3 linked regions of the Homo sapiens genome follow. The protein of the gene in region 2 interacts with the protein of the main gene of each other region in a biochemical or structural test. Each region holds a gene or a part of one and is shown on either strand. Other genes may lie near its edges.

Region 1 (4,448 bases), on a different chromosome or scaffold from region 2:
TGAGGATTGACACCCAGTGACTTCCAGTTTCTTTCTCATTTCACTGTACTCAACTAAATTACATGAACAAAGGCACAGGCAGGATTAAGCTACCATTTTATATTAGATGGTATAAAAACAATCAACTAGCCTGGGGTCAATTGAATTAAGTCTGTCAGTCTGTTTCTACAAAAGTTGCAGAAGGATGGGCTTCAGTTTGTCTCTTCAAAGTGAACTAATATTTTGATTTTTCTGGTTGAAATATGCTACAACTCACCGAAGTAGCTTTCTCAGTTGAAGGTAAGCTCCTTAAAAAATGTTCCTATTCTTGGGCCGGGTGTGGTGGCCCCCGCCTGTAATCCCAGCACTTTGGGAGGCCATTGAGGGCAGATAGCTTGAGTCCAGGATTTTGAGAACAGCCTGAGCAACAATGGCAAAACCCCGTCTCTACAAAAAATGGAAAAAAACTAGCCAGGCATGGTGATGCACATCTGTGTTCCCAGCTACTCGGGAGGCTGAGGTGGGAGGATCTTTTGAGTCCGGGAGGCAGAGGTTGCAGTGAGCTGAGATCATGCCACTGCACTCTGGCCCGTGTGACAAAGTGAGACCTTGTCTCAAAAAAAAAAAAAAAAAAAAAAGAAAGAAAAGAAATATTACTATTCTTGAGCCTGTTTCTGCGGTTTCTTTCCAATGGCACTGTTTTTCTAACCTGCAGCAGCCCCCAGCTTTCCACATAATCCAATCAAAATTACTTTGCCTGATTTGTTAGATTTTGTAACTACCGTAGCGTATTTAGTCAAGCGTATTTAGCGTATTTAGTGTATGCTGTGCCCCAGTCAGACTAGTGTCCTTGCTATTGGTACTTCCTATTCTCCCAAAGTCCTTTCATTCCCACCTTCGTATCTTTTTTCATATGGTCCCTGAGCCTGGAATACCTTCCATTCCTCTTTCATTTCTAGATGCCCAACATAAGGTCCAGCTTAAATCTAATCTCCACAAAGCCTCTCCTAGTTACTCTTGGCCATTTTGCACTTCCTCTGAACTCCTTTTGCATTTATTGCTTATACTACTGCCTACACTGCACATGGTAGTTATGTATTAGTTATGTATTACCACAAGGCTTTTCAGTGGAAATGCTTTAGTGGTCACCTTGGGAGTTGGGATTCCGGGAATTCTGGGGCAGGACTCTGGACATCCCCAAACCCTGTTTTGGCCAGAGCAACTCCACTTTAGTGTTATATATGGGCAGTTTCCAGTAGTGTTTATTAGAAGAGATGGTTTAATTGCACCCCCTGTCCCCGTTCCCCCAAACAGTTGCAAAAATACTGGATCTATCTTGTGTGATAGTTGACTCATAAGTGTTAACTTATAATGGCCAAGGGCCAGGAATTAATACTACTTCAGACTTGTATTACCACTCCTAGGCAACTGGTGCAGTTTTGAGCACAAAGTGGACATGTAGGAAATGATTTTACAATTGTATTGCTCCCATGTGGGAAATAGTAGATAGTAAATAGCATTACCTGAGAAATTTACCTTAATGAAGAACTCAGAATAAGGTTTCTGGGTTGACCTTTGAGAAATAAATCTAAGTTGATAGTTTCTGCCCCACCCCCCCCTTTGGATATAAACCTAACACTATTTAAAGATGTCTAGTTTACATGCACATGTTTAAGAGAAATCTTATTATTGGCATACCCTATTCTACCAAAGTTTTGACAAACTTAAATATCATATTCATGCATTTGTGTAAGCATTAAGGTTGTTATTCAACTCACAGAATGATATGCAGAGTACCAGTACACCTAGAAACCTAGAAAAAAATAAATTCAGAAGTTGATGTGCTCAAAGACATTTACGTCAATAATGATTACAAATGGAAAATGCCAGCCTTTCAGACCAGTTATTTCAGCTTTCTGTAATTAATTGTGTAAACTAATAAAGACCTGAGTATTTAAATCAATTGTGCTATCAACTTGTTAATATTCTTTTGTTTTTGTTTTTTGTTTTTTGTTTTTATTTTTCCTGCTCTCTGCTTGGTTCATTGTCATCACCTACAGGCGTACTTTATTGTCGGCTTCCAAAGATTACTAACTTTTATCTGTATCACTAAGATTGAACTGCCTTGGCTGTACTGCTATTCTTACTGCTGCTTCTATTATTGCCTTCTTCAGCACAATAAGGCTTTCAAAAGCCAAAGAATAACAAGAAATAAGCACCATTTTAGAAGCCTTTCCACTATGAAACTTAAGCTAAATGTGCTCACCATTATTTTGCTGCCTGTCCACTTGTTAATAACAATATACAGTGCCCTTATATTTATTCCATGGTATTTTCTTACCAATGCCAAGAAGAAAAACGCTATGGCAAAGAGAATAAAAGCTAAGCCCACTTCAGACAAACCTGGAAGTCCATATCGCTCTGTCACACACTTCGACTCACTAGCTGTAATAGACATCCCTGGAGCAGATACTCTGGATAAATTATTTGACCATGCTGTATCCAAGTTTGGGAAGAAGGACAGCCTTGGGACCAGGGAAATCCTAAGTGAAGAAAATGAAATGCAGCCAAATGGAAAAGTTTTTAAGAAGGTAAAGTATTTTGGTGCTTTTCATTTATGTTTTAAAGAGGAAGACACATTTGTTTTATCATAAATCGAGTGCGTTTTAAGTATGCTGGCATTCTATTATAGTGCTGTGTAAAACTACTCAGAAGCCGCTCATAGCTTCTGTATGTTCATTTAAGAGCATTTTTAGAGTTTTATGCTTTGGATAGTATTTTAATTGCTTGTTTGAATATACTAATATTAGAGAATGTATCACTTTAACAGTTAATTCTTGGGAATTATAAATGGATGAACTATCTTGAAGTGAATCGCAGAGTGAATAACTTTGGTAGTGGACTCACTGCACTGGGACTAAAACCAAAGAACACCATTGCCATCTTCTGTGAGACCAGGGCCGAATGGATGATTGCAGCACAGACCTGCTTTAAGTACAACTTTCCTCGTAAGTGCCTTGTGTTTTTGGAGGGGGGAGAGGAGGGTCTTTGCTTGCATGTGAGAATTGTTTTGAGATGCTCTTGTTTTCACAGTAGGTGTTGTTTAGCCATTTTACACATTAATTATGTCCATAATACGGCATGTAATATTGTGGCTAAAAGATATCCGATGACTCCTGTTAAGTATGGTAACTTGTAAGAACTAATATGGGAATTGGCAGCTTTAAGGGATGTGATTTACACTTTTATTTTCCAATTGGAAATGAATTGTAACTGAAAGAGTTGGAGTTTGGGGGTATTTTGGGGGGGTGATATACAAAGAGTAATGATTAAAAGAACAAAAAACCATTTCTCAGGATAATTCAAATTCATTGCTTCACTTTGAGACCTCTTATTTGACTTATTCTATTTTACGTGTGAAATATGCATGTGACAGCTGGAATTGGCATTAGATATGTTAGAAAGTAAAATTGAGTATATTTCTAATACTCAAGCATTTGTTGTTGCCATTGTTTAAGAAATAAACAATGTATTGTCACATACTAAGTACTCTGTTGTTTGTTGAATGAAATATAACACTGTAAGTTAGGATTATAGAGCTTAAATTTCAAACAAAAAATAGATAATATGAAAATGATCCCCTATGTACCCATTACCCACTTTCAACGATGAACAGCTTGTGAAAGTGGCTATTTTTAACCACATTGTTTCTGGTTACCAATCTAGAGCTGAATTTTCAGTTCTTTCTAAGTTTAGCAGATGTCCTTTGATTCTAACTGATCTTGGTTTATGTTATCTCTGGTGGCTCCTAAGGAGTAGATCTCCTTGATCTCTCTAATTAAGGTGTGGAGGTCACCAATCACATTGGACATTGGACTCACTAAAACAGCTTCTTAGAAGGAGTAAGAACATTATCTGTGGCTGATCTTATGACTTAAGATCCTCAAGATTTTCAAGGACTTATCCATTCTTTGGAGGCTATGGCCAATGAAAGTGTGTATCAAGAAGAAGCCCTAGCTGGGCCAGTCTGACCTGAATTAAGAGTTCAGCCAGTACCTATTGGCCTTGAGCATCTAAATTGACAGATTTTTGATCAGCTGTGGCAGTGCGAGTGTTTCTGGGTTTCTTCAGGTTTAGGAAGTGAGAGTTCTGGGAATTTGTAAGGAAAACTTTGGGCTCCCAGGGAGTTTGAAGCAAGGTTGAAGGATGGTAACAGAGACTATGAAATCAAATTAAAATATACAATGTCTTTGTGTCTCTAAGTGTAACTATTATTAAAGACTGACTTCAATAATATCCATTTCTAATAGATGTTTATTACTTAATATTTGTGTTTATTTTTATTATGTAGTTGTGACTTTATATGCCACACTTGGCAAAGAAGCAGTAGTTCATGGGCTAAATGAATCTGAGGCTTCCTATCTGATTACCAGTGTTGAACTTCTGGAAAGTAAACTTAAGGTAAATAT
Region 2 (5,464 bases):
GCGTGATTGACCGCACCCGGCCCAAATATTAATTTTGAAGCTTTCTTACATCCTAGGACATTGCCAGAATAGCTGCTGGCTCTCTTGAGTTGGAGTCATCGTTCATGGATGCATCCCCAGTGCCTGTGTGCTCAGTGGCACATGAAAGGCACTGAATAAGCATTTGCTGAATGAATTAATGAACACTTGATTACCTGGGCCCATCCAACTTTTCCCTTCATCCTTCCAACATAAACTTTTTCTGTCTGTGTAACATTTGGTGGAAAACTTCCTGAATCCCTTAGTACTAAATGGAACACCCAGTCCATTCAGTGTTGACAATAAAACAAGTTAACACCCATTGTGGAGGAGTGATTGGGCCAGAGTCTTGTTCCTTAGTAAGTTCATATCTCACCACAATGCAGAGCTCAAGAGAGGGCTGCTTTTCTCTCTACTCCAAAGGTGAACACAGACCCTTCCTCATTATCCCACATCACTACTGAGACCAGAATAACATGTTGAATGAAACCTGCTCGAAGGTTTGTGAGTAAGGAAATAATATAAGGAGAATAACTTAAAACAGGCCACTGGGTTTAGCTGCTTTCAGAGCCCAGAGGCCTCAACATATCCTCGGCCCATGCTTTTTCACCATCAAAACAACACACTTAGGCTCTTCAAAGTCCAACTCCCAGGGAACCCCACCTGGCAGAAGGAAGATATTTCATTTCCTTTTAAAGCTCACATTTCAATATCCCACCCTGCCCTAAAATATGCCTCTTTTTTGGGTGACTGACACTGGGAATGTCTTCTCCCTTCTAAGGATATACACTCCAAATTAAGGAGAATGGCCTTTATCCTCCAGTGTATACTGAAGCTTGAAATGTACTTGGCATACAGTAGGCCTTGGAAGAATTGACTGAGTCCCTCGAATCACTTTGCTTCCCTGGTGCAGACGTTAAGACAAGTTACATTAACATCTTTTGTTCTATGATGGAAATTAGCAATGTATGTTCCTCTTGGCTTTGACCCTTCCTTCTGCATCTTCCTTTGCCTTAATTTTTAAAGTGCAGCAGCATGAGCACTTTAAAGTTTGGTGGCATAGAATTTTACTGGCTATGTGAACATTTAGTAATTAATCACTAGAACAAAGGAGAAACCCAAATATTTCGATTTTGTTCATCCACAACATGTAGTAACAATCAACTGGAACTACCTGGAAATATACGGGAACAGAATGCTTTTGCAGGGTGCTTAAAAACACGATATATGGGATCTATGGGATCAGGCAGACCTGGGTTAGAATCCTGACTCTGCCATTTCTTTGCTTCAGTTCTTCAGATTTGGACTCTTGAGCAAGGCACTTAACCACAGTGAGCCTCATTTCCCCATCTAAGACATGAAGATCATGATAGTATCACTTTATAAGGATTGTTTATAAGAGGGTTAAAGCACAGATAACACATGTAAAGACTGGTACTTAGCAAGCATTTGGTAAATATTAGCTGCTATTATATCACCCCATAGGCTGAAATGCTGCATATCACACTACATGGGCATTTTCAAGCAATCTAAGAGGCACCCAGGAGTTGTCCATTCATCTTTATTCCTTTATTTAATCCTCCCCATGTATTATATAAGCTTAGGTATATAACTTCTATTACATAAAGAAGTAGTAAAGGCACAATGTTTACTTACACAATTACATGTAGTGAATTAGCACTTTTGTAACTCAGAGACATGAATGTCAACAATTTTAGAGCAGAGCTCATTTGCACGGTCATAAGGTTTTCATGGCTGCTGTGACTCTGCAGACAAGCATTTCAAAGCAGGCCCCCCAGCCAGTGGCATCGGAACCAGTGGCATCAGGGGAAGTATAAACAAAGAAAATTACAGATTATTGTGCCCACACCCCAGAAATTTTGATTCAAGTTTGAGATAGGGCTGACAAATCTTTATTTTTCCAAAGCTCCCTGAGTGATCTATATGTATAACCAGGCTCTGAACCACTGATGCAGAGCACCATCATTTCTTGATTGGAATGGATGCCTGAGGATAGTAAAACAACAAAGTTAAAACATGCTGACTTTTTTTAGACCCTGAAATTACCGATTTGGTGATGGGTGTTAAGGTTGACAATAAAAACCATTTCTCCAATGTGGTCATGGCTTGAGAGAGCCATGCGCTTTCCCCAGGTCATGGATGGCCTTGTTCTCCAGCAGTTCCATCTGCTTGTCTCTTGGTCTCACCACATTGTTCAGCATTGCTCTAACCACGGTCACCACAGGCACAGAATGCCCACTGGCCCAAGAGTCTGGTAAGGAGCCAAAGAACTTTCTAACCAGCCATTCACCTGGGCGAGATTCTTGCCTATCACATAACAGAACTCTAAAATAAAAAAAAAAAAAAAAGAAAGAAAAGCAGAGGAAGAGGTGGTAAATTGCACTGAGACCACAGTGGGCATTACGGACAAAACTGTATCCCCTCAATATTCTAATGTTGAAGCCCTAATCCCCAAGGTGTCTATATTTGAAGATAAGGCATTAAGGGAAGTAATTAAGTTTAATGAGGTCTTAAGGATGGAATAGGACTAGTGTGATGGGACTGGGGTCCTCATAAGAGGAAGAGACATCAGAGGTCTCTCTCTGTCTGCATACACTAAGAAGAAAGGCCATGTGAGGACACTGCCAGAAGGTGGTCTGTCTGCCAGCCAGGAAAAGAGGCCTCACCGGACACCAACCCTGAGGGCACCTTGATCTTGGACTTCCAATCTCCAGACTGCGTGAAAAAAAATTTCTGTTGTTTAAGACACCCAATCTGTGTGGTATTCTGTTATGGCAACCCAAGCAGACTAATACAGTAGACGTAAGGTTTTATTTGGCACATGAAGAGGATTTAAGAAGGCAGCAAATGCTGTCCAGGAAGTTCCAGACTATTCTGAAGCAGGCCCCACCATCTACCCTTTCTTTCTAAGCAAAAAGGTGTGTCCTTCAGAGAAGCAATCTACCTCTAGCCAATGTCTTTCATATCTTAGATATTTCAGCTGTCAGCCTTTCCAAATGAAAAATTAGTATCTAGGGATTAACCATCAGTGGCATACTCTCATTCAGTATAAATATTATACTTACCCAGGCCTAAATACAGAGTAACGATCAAATTTTAATTCTTCAACCTTGGCTTCTACTTCTCCCTATTAAGAAAAAACACATTTTCAGTATTTAATCGCGACCAGCTCACCTGTGTGAAGTTTAAGAGAGAATAATTTGTGGTTTTGAGATAATCTGCTTTTGCAGATCTCAATACTCAAAATATCCTTATCTAGAATTTTAGGTTCCAAGGAGTCTGGGAAATTAAGGAAGAGATCATTTAATCCTGATGTGTAGTCTTTCATTTAAAAGATCCACTAAATGAGTGAATGGCTGCATAGTCAGTCCTCTCACTTTATTGATATTAAAACAGATTCAGAGAGGGTAAGTCATACGTTAGTACAATCATAAAAGAATATCCTCTATTTAGTCCAGAATTCATGTTGCATGCTAGCAGACACTAACGTTTTTTTGGTTTATAGGTAGTTCCAGTGGGTCAGAAAACCATAGACCCACTATATTACTCACTTCTTAAACCTCACAAAATTTTAAGACAGATTACATCTAGATGATGCTTTAAATCTAATTTGTTAAATAAAGCATGCATTTTCATGGCAGGCATCTCTGGAAACAAAATGCCTGAGGAGCTCAGCCCACAGGCACTTCCAAAGGCCTGTGAACTACCACACGGTCATGCACGCCTCCTTCTTGGCCTGTGTGTACCACTCAATTGGCACTTAACCTGTCTCATCACAGACATTTAAGTAGCTATTTTTAAATATCTTTTTCTTTTTAAAAATTTTTTAATTTTAATTATTTATTTATTTATGTATTTTTTGTGTGTGATAGAGTCTCACCATGTCACCTAGGCTGAAGTGCAAGGGCATGATCTTGGCTCACTGCAACTTCCACCTCCCAGGTTCAAGCAATTCTCCTGCCTCGGCCTCCCAAGTAGCTGGGATTACAGGCATCCGCCATTATGCCTGGCTAATTTTTGTATTTTTAGTAGTGACGGGGTTGTCACCATGTTGACCAGGCTGGTCTCGAACTCCTGACCTCAAGTGATCCACCCGCCTCAGCCTCCCAAAGTGCTGGGATTACAGGCGAGAGCCACCGCGCTTGGCCATTCTTTTTTTTTTAATAGGTGGTTTTTAGTATATACACAGAACTCTGTAACCTTCATCACGATCTAAGTTTTAAAATATTTCATCACCCTGAAAAGAAATCCCATATCATTAGCAGTCACTCCTCGTACCCTACCCTCTGGGGACCTAGTCAACCACTAATGTACCTTCTATCTCTATAGATTTGCCTATTCTGGACATTTCATATAAATGAAATCATATAATTCGTGGTCTTTTGTGACTGTCTCCTCACACTTAGCATAATATTTTCAAGGTTCACCCATGTTGTAGTATGTATCATTTCTTTTTATAGCTGAATAATATTCTATTGCATGAATATATCACATTTTATTCATCTATTCATCAGTCGATGGCTATCTAGGTTGTTCCCACTCTTTGGCCATTATAAATAATGCTGCTATGAACAGTCATACACAAGATTTTATGTGTACACACATTTCTTAGCTTTTTTTTTTTTTTTTTTTTGAGATGGAGTCTCACTCTGTCGCCCAGGCTGGAGTGCAGTGGCGCAATCTCAGCTCACTGCAAGCTCCGCCTCCCGGGTTCATGCCGTTCTCCTGCCTCAGCCTCCCGAGCAGCTGGGACTACAGGCACCTGCCATCACGCCCGGCTAATTTTTTGTATTTTTAGTAGAGACGGGGTTTCACCGTGTTAGCCAGGATGGTCTCAATCTCCTGACCTCGTGATCCGCCCGCCTCGGCCTCCCAAAGCGCTGGGATTACAGGCGTGAGCCACCGCGCCCAGCCCATTTCTTAGCTTTTTAAAAGATTTGTTTTGTCTCTATTAGCAGTGTGCATAAAAGAGATACCATAGCAGGCTGAGACTGCTATCCTTAGAAAGGCCTGTTACAAGTTTGGCCCCTGGCTTGTGCTTGCAACCTTGGATTTTCGGTGTGTTCCCACCATTCCCTATCTGATAAGGGTCATGTACTATGCCTAAACTGTCTGTACAAACAATGTGGTTTATGCTGAAAACTTGCCTTTCTTCTGGAGGGCTGCAATTTGGCTAGGCCAATGTGCCTATGTAACTGGCTCCCATAAAAACCCTGCATTCCTAGGCTCAGATGAGTTTCTCTGGCAGAAAACGTTCATCGCTGGAGACATTAAGCACATCCTGTGCAAGCTCTATGGGGAGAGGCCTCTTGGAAGCTTGTACCTACTTTCCTCCAGACTTCACCCGACACACCTTTTCCCTTTGCTGATTTTGCTCTATATCCTTTCAATGCGATAAGTTGTAGCTGTGAGTATGACTATATGC
Region 3 (4,448 bases), on a different chromosome or scaffold from region 2:
TCTTGTGTTGAATTCCACTGGATAGAATCTTCCAGAATAACATGCAGGAAAGAAAATTATTATTATTATTTTTAATAAACAAAGAATATGACCTGTTAACATCTACAGATAACCAAGAATAAGGACTGGCGTTTGGTATAGTAGGGTTAGGTAATAAAACACTCCTCCTAAGTTGTTTTCATTAGAGAAGGCTGGCGTATAGAACTAGATATGGGAGAAAAGTAGAATCACATAAGCTTAAAGAAAAGCAAATTTGTATAGCTAAAGCCTGCTTTGCTAAAAACCAAGAATACCTGCTTTACAAAAATTGAAGTGAATAATAAATACCATGTACTAAGAAATCTATGCCCCAAAATAATACCTGACAGTTTTCATATGACTTAAAGCTAAATAAATACATTACAAATTTCATACTTCAGATGAATGAAGAAATAAAAGTGCTTTCTGCTGCAGTAGAGTTTGTTCCCCTTTTTCCGTATTAAACAATTAATAGTGTATCTAATGACATCAAATGGTATTAAGTACTCACATAATTCGAGTGCTTTAAAATAATAATTATGTATTTTAAAAATCCCAACCAGATTCCTATCACATGAAAGACCACAGCAATAACAAGAAACTTAGAGGTCTGGTAGAGATTTTATGCTGCTATTTTGCCAACTTTTGAGTTCCTGATCAAATGAAGGTAATCTTCAATTCCATTTTAAATCAGAAGTCTCTAATTTGTCTAGAAAAATGGCTTCTGACAAAACTGAAAATAATATAAAGCTAAATAGTGAAGTATATCTTAAATTGATTCTTACCTTTTCAATTAAGCAGACACAAGATATAATCCTTCTATTTTAAAAAAAACCTGAAAATATTTTCTATGTAAGACTTGGCCAGTAATATCTGACCATAGCTTTGCTACTGCATGCAGTACTTTCACAATTTACAACTCTTAAAGTTTATAATGGTCTAAATTACAAATTATATAATGACAGGCCTTATAGGGAATATCTAGTTCTATTATACGTAATTGTGAAGAATACTAGTTCAGGTTTATGACTTACTGAGTCTGTTCACTTACTGTGTACCACTTTCTAATTATATAGGTTGGCTATGATTCAGAGAGAAATATAATATCTTTGAGTATTTTAAGTAGTTTTCAAGGTGTCTCTGGAATACACTGGGTGTGTATTAAGATAAAAAATATACATAACATAACTTCAGCAGGAGTTCATATATTATTAAATGGTCTTGTGAATAAAGGAAACTCACATCTAAACACTGACTAGACCTGGCAAACATTCAGGTTAAGAGTACAACACATATAGTATTACTTTAATTGGTAGGTTTCTATTACCAATAATTTGCTCTCTACATATGAAAAGGAATATTACACTGTATAATTATAGCCAGTTTCGTGAGCATCTACATACAGAACTGGAGAAATCACATGGTCATGTATACTATATCTTTGGAACAAAACCAGTTCTAGTTAGAATGAAGGACATAAATATTTTACTTTGAAGCTGGTGGAATCGTTTTGTAATTACTTAAAAGATTAAAGAATATTCAAGATTATATCTTTAAACCATTTTGATTGTAATTTGCCTCGTAGTATCTATTTTCATTGGGTAGTCCAAAGTATTTATATTTGACAGCATGGGATGTTTCTTCTGCAAAAACAAGAATTCTCAGATAATTGTCTCATTTTAGGGTTTAGTAAACTTTTAGTGTAGTATGTCAAGTATCTGTTTATTCATCTCTATTTAAGAGTTCCTTAAATTTCCATCTGGGCTGACGTATGGAGAAAATGAGACCTGGATTTTTTTTTTTTTCCTATCTAATAGAATTGCTCAGATTAGGGTAGGGCTGGGGAGTTTTCAGTGAGAGTTGTAAAAACACAACCACCAACATTACTGCCAATCCCCATACACCCAAAAAATCCTAACACATGTGCACATAGAACTTTTGGGAAATCCATGAGTTCAGAAATACAGAAGAATAAATAACTTTAAGGAACTAATCACGGAGAGCAAAGATTCAAGAAGTCAAGAAAAAACTTCCCTCATCCTATTTTTTTTGTCACAGAATTTGAAAACCTGTCAGTTGGAAGCAGAGGGTTCATTTAAAAAAGATTTTCTTTGAAAATGCAAATATTGAGAATGCTAAAGCACCAACTCACGGCTTTACATAAAAGGAAGAAACCAGAAAATAATCCAGAAAACATGTAGGAAATGACAGAACTGTTTTAAACCACAAAAGAATGGGGTGAAGAATTCCCAAAGAAAGACACAGTATCTAATCTATAGTTTTATTTTGTATTAAATAATCAGATTATTTTCTCCTAAATCCTTATAGAGAGATATAATCAACACCAAGCAAATAGAAATGGTGTTAATGTAAAGAAGGGAAAAAAAGGTAGAAAGACAATTTGGAGATCTTTCTGGACATCAGATGGGGAACTCTGGTTGGAGAAAAATTAATCAACAAGAGGGAAGTGGCAACTTGGGAATCTCTTCCAAGGAGAGGTCTAATGTCTCCTCTGAATAGAAAAGGGAAGAAACGGTACTTCTTTCCCCTTCTGCTATACTTTATTCTGGCCAACTGCCCTTAAGACCAAAAGTCATCTCTCAGTGTCTTCTCCACTTCAGTTTGGGTGATACTTCTATACTTTGTTAATTATACTAGCAATGTGAATGCCATTCAAAATCATCATAATCACCATGAAGTGCTTTATCTTGGCCTGAATATCTATAGTGTCCAAGTGGTGGTCTGAAAACAGTTAAAAGCACTTCTCAGTTAAGAATTTTTAGACAAGAAAAAGAGCTTTACATACAAGGAAAAGAACTGGAAAATAATCTAGAAAACATGCTGGAAATGGCAGAACCATTATAAACTACAAAAGGATGGGGTGAAGAACTCCCAAAATATACAATATCTAATCCACAATTTTATTTTAGACTAATATGCCAGACAGGGGTCACAAAATGGTCCTTGGATAATGCTATAAATAAAAATGCATGTTTCTTTCACTCACAGTACCAAAAACTACTTTGTTCTACTTATTTTTTAATTGTACAATCATAAAACAACTCTTTTCACCTTAAAACCAGATTTTATAGTTCATAAGCTACAGCCACAGAAAACAATGAGGACTAGGAATAACAAGAGCGGTGTCAAAGAAAATTTCCAGGAGGCCATTGCTTTGGACTGAGCTCCTGAACTAGGCCCAAAGACCAAACCAAATTCATGATGAAGTTCCACGCTATCAAGCCAAGACAAAGATCTTTTCCTGACGTTCTGCGAAATCAGGAGATAAATAATGGCCAAAACCACAAATAGGCCAGTTTTAGCCAGCATGAAAAGGAAGTCTGCACTGCTTTACCCTTCACAAGAAAAGTAACTCTGAAATGACCAATCCGCTTTTTGCTCCTTGTCTCTGCTTTCCTCAGCTCCCTTCTCTGTTTATAAAGCCAAACGCCTCTGCTCAGCTCATTGGAACACTTGTTCTATTTTATAGAATGAGGTGTTGCCCTATTCTAGAGTTGCAAATAAAAGACAATTAAGATCTCTAAACTAAGTGTGCTGTAATTTTGTCTTTTGACAGCCACATGAACTACAACACTTAGTGACAGTACCACCACTAGCTGTTCAAAGAACCCAGAAGCCTATACTGTTTTAATAACTGACTACAAATGACATAAAACTCTCTAAAAGGCTTAGTTGAAAACCAACTAACAATCAAGAATTACTAAAGTGGCATTACATGCTGATAAAGATAATGCCAGTTGGAAAACCATACTGACAAGACAGAGAATATCACACATTAAATCCCCCAAATTGGGAGGGGAAATGACAGGACTTCTCGCTAAACTATATTTATGAAGACAACTTTGATGATATATTGCAACATCAGGGATATTGTAATGAGTTATATTGTAACAAGTCAGGGATAAGAGAATGTTATGCTTGCTCTTTCTAAATCAACCCTTTAAGTTCACTTTGAATACTATACTTTCCCTATATATTTGATTATCTCCTTTATTCTCCAACTAAAATAATTATTACATCTTTAACTGTATTAGAATATTATTCCTGGGAACAGAAATGGGGGAAACAATAGTTTATACTTACAGAATGCTTATTTTGTTCCTGAGCCTGTGTACTAAGAACATTATGTGTATTATTTCATTCAATCCTTTTACAACTCTTGGAATTAAATACTGCTATAATTTCTACTTTGCAAATGAGAAAATTTGAAGTTTAGAGAAATTAAGTGACAGGCCACACAATTATCAGGAGGCAGAGCTGAGACTCAGACCCAGGTCTTTCTTACACCAAAGTACTTAAACATTATGCTATGCTGCCTCCAACGGAGTGGAAAGACATGCTTTCCATTTAGAATATTCTTGCTAGGACTCCCTGATCAAATACTGATGGAACCTGGAAAAGGTCCAGTC

Evidence for each region.
Region 1: the proteins of HTATIP2 (region 2) and ACSL4 form a complex in vitro, tested with the Homo sapiens proteins (one study listed by BioGRID).
Region 3: the proteins of HTATIP2 (region 2) and NCOA5 form a complex in vitro, tested with the Homo sapiens proteins (one study listed by BioGRID).

What each region holds. Positions count from the first base shown.
Region 1 is NC_000023.11:109,681,258-109,685,705, reverse strand, and holds part of ACSL4 (long-chain-fatty-acid--CoA ligase 4), read left to right. Parts: intron 1-261; exon of another isoform or gene 262-279; intron 280-2,039; exon of another isoform or gene 2,040-2,219; coding exon of another isoform or gene 2,220-2,342; coding exon 2,343-2,570; intron 2,571-2,809; coding exon 2,810-2,987; intron 2,988-4,330; coding exon 4,331-4,440; intron 4,441-4,448. UniProt on the Homo sapiens protein: Catalyzes the conversion of long-chain fatty acids to their active form acyl-CoA for both synthesis of cellular lipids, and degradation via beta-oxidation. Preferentially activates arachidonate and eicosapentaenoate as substrates.
Region 2 is NC_000011.10:20,379,880-20,385,343, reverse strand, and holds the end of HTATIP2 (protein HTATIP2), read right to left. Parts: intron 3,167-5,464; coding exon 3,105-3,166; intron 2,365-3,104; coding exon 2,139-2,364; 3' UTR 1,562-2,138; downstream 1-1,561. UniProt on the Homo sapiens protein: Represses translation by preventing reactivation of elongation factor eEF1A. May also inhibit nuclear import by competing with nuclear import substrates for binding to a subset of nuclear transport receptors.
Region 3 is NC_000020.11:46,079,963-46,084,410, forward strand, and holds part of NCOA5 (nuclear receptor coactivator 5), read right to left. Parts: intron 1-4,448. UniProt on the Homo sapiens protein: Nuclear receptor coregulator that can have both coactivator and corepressor functions.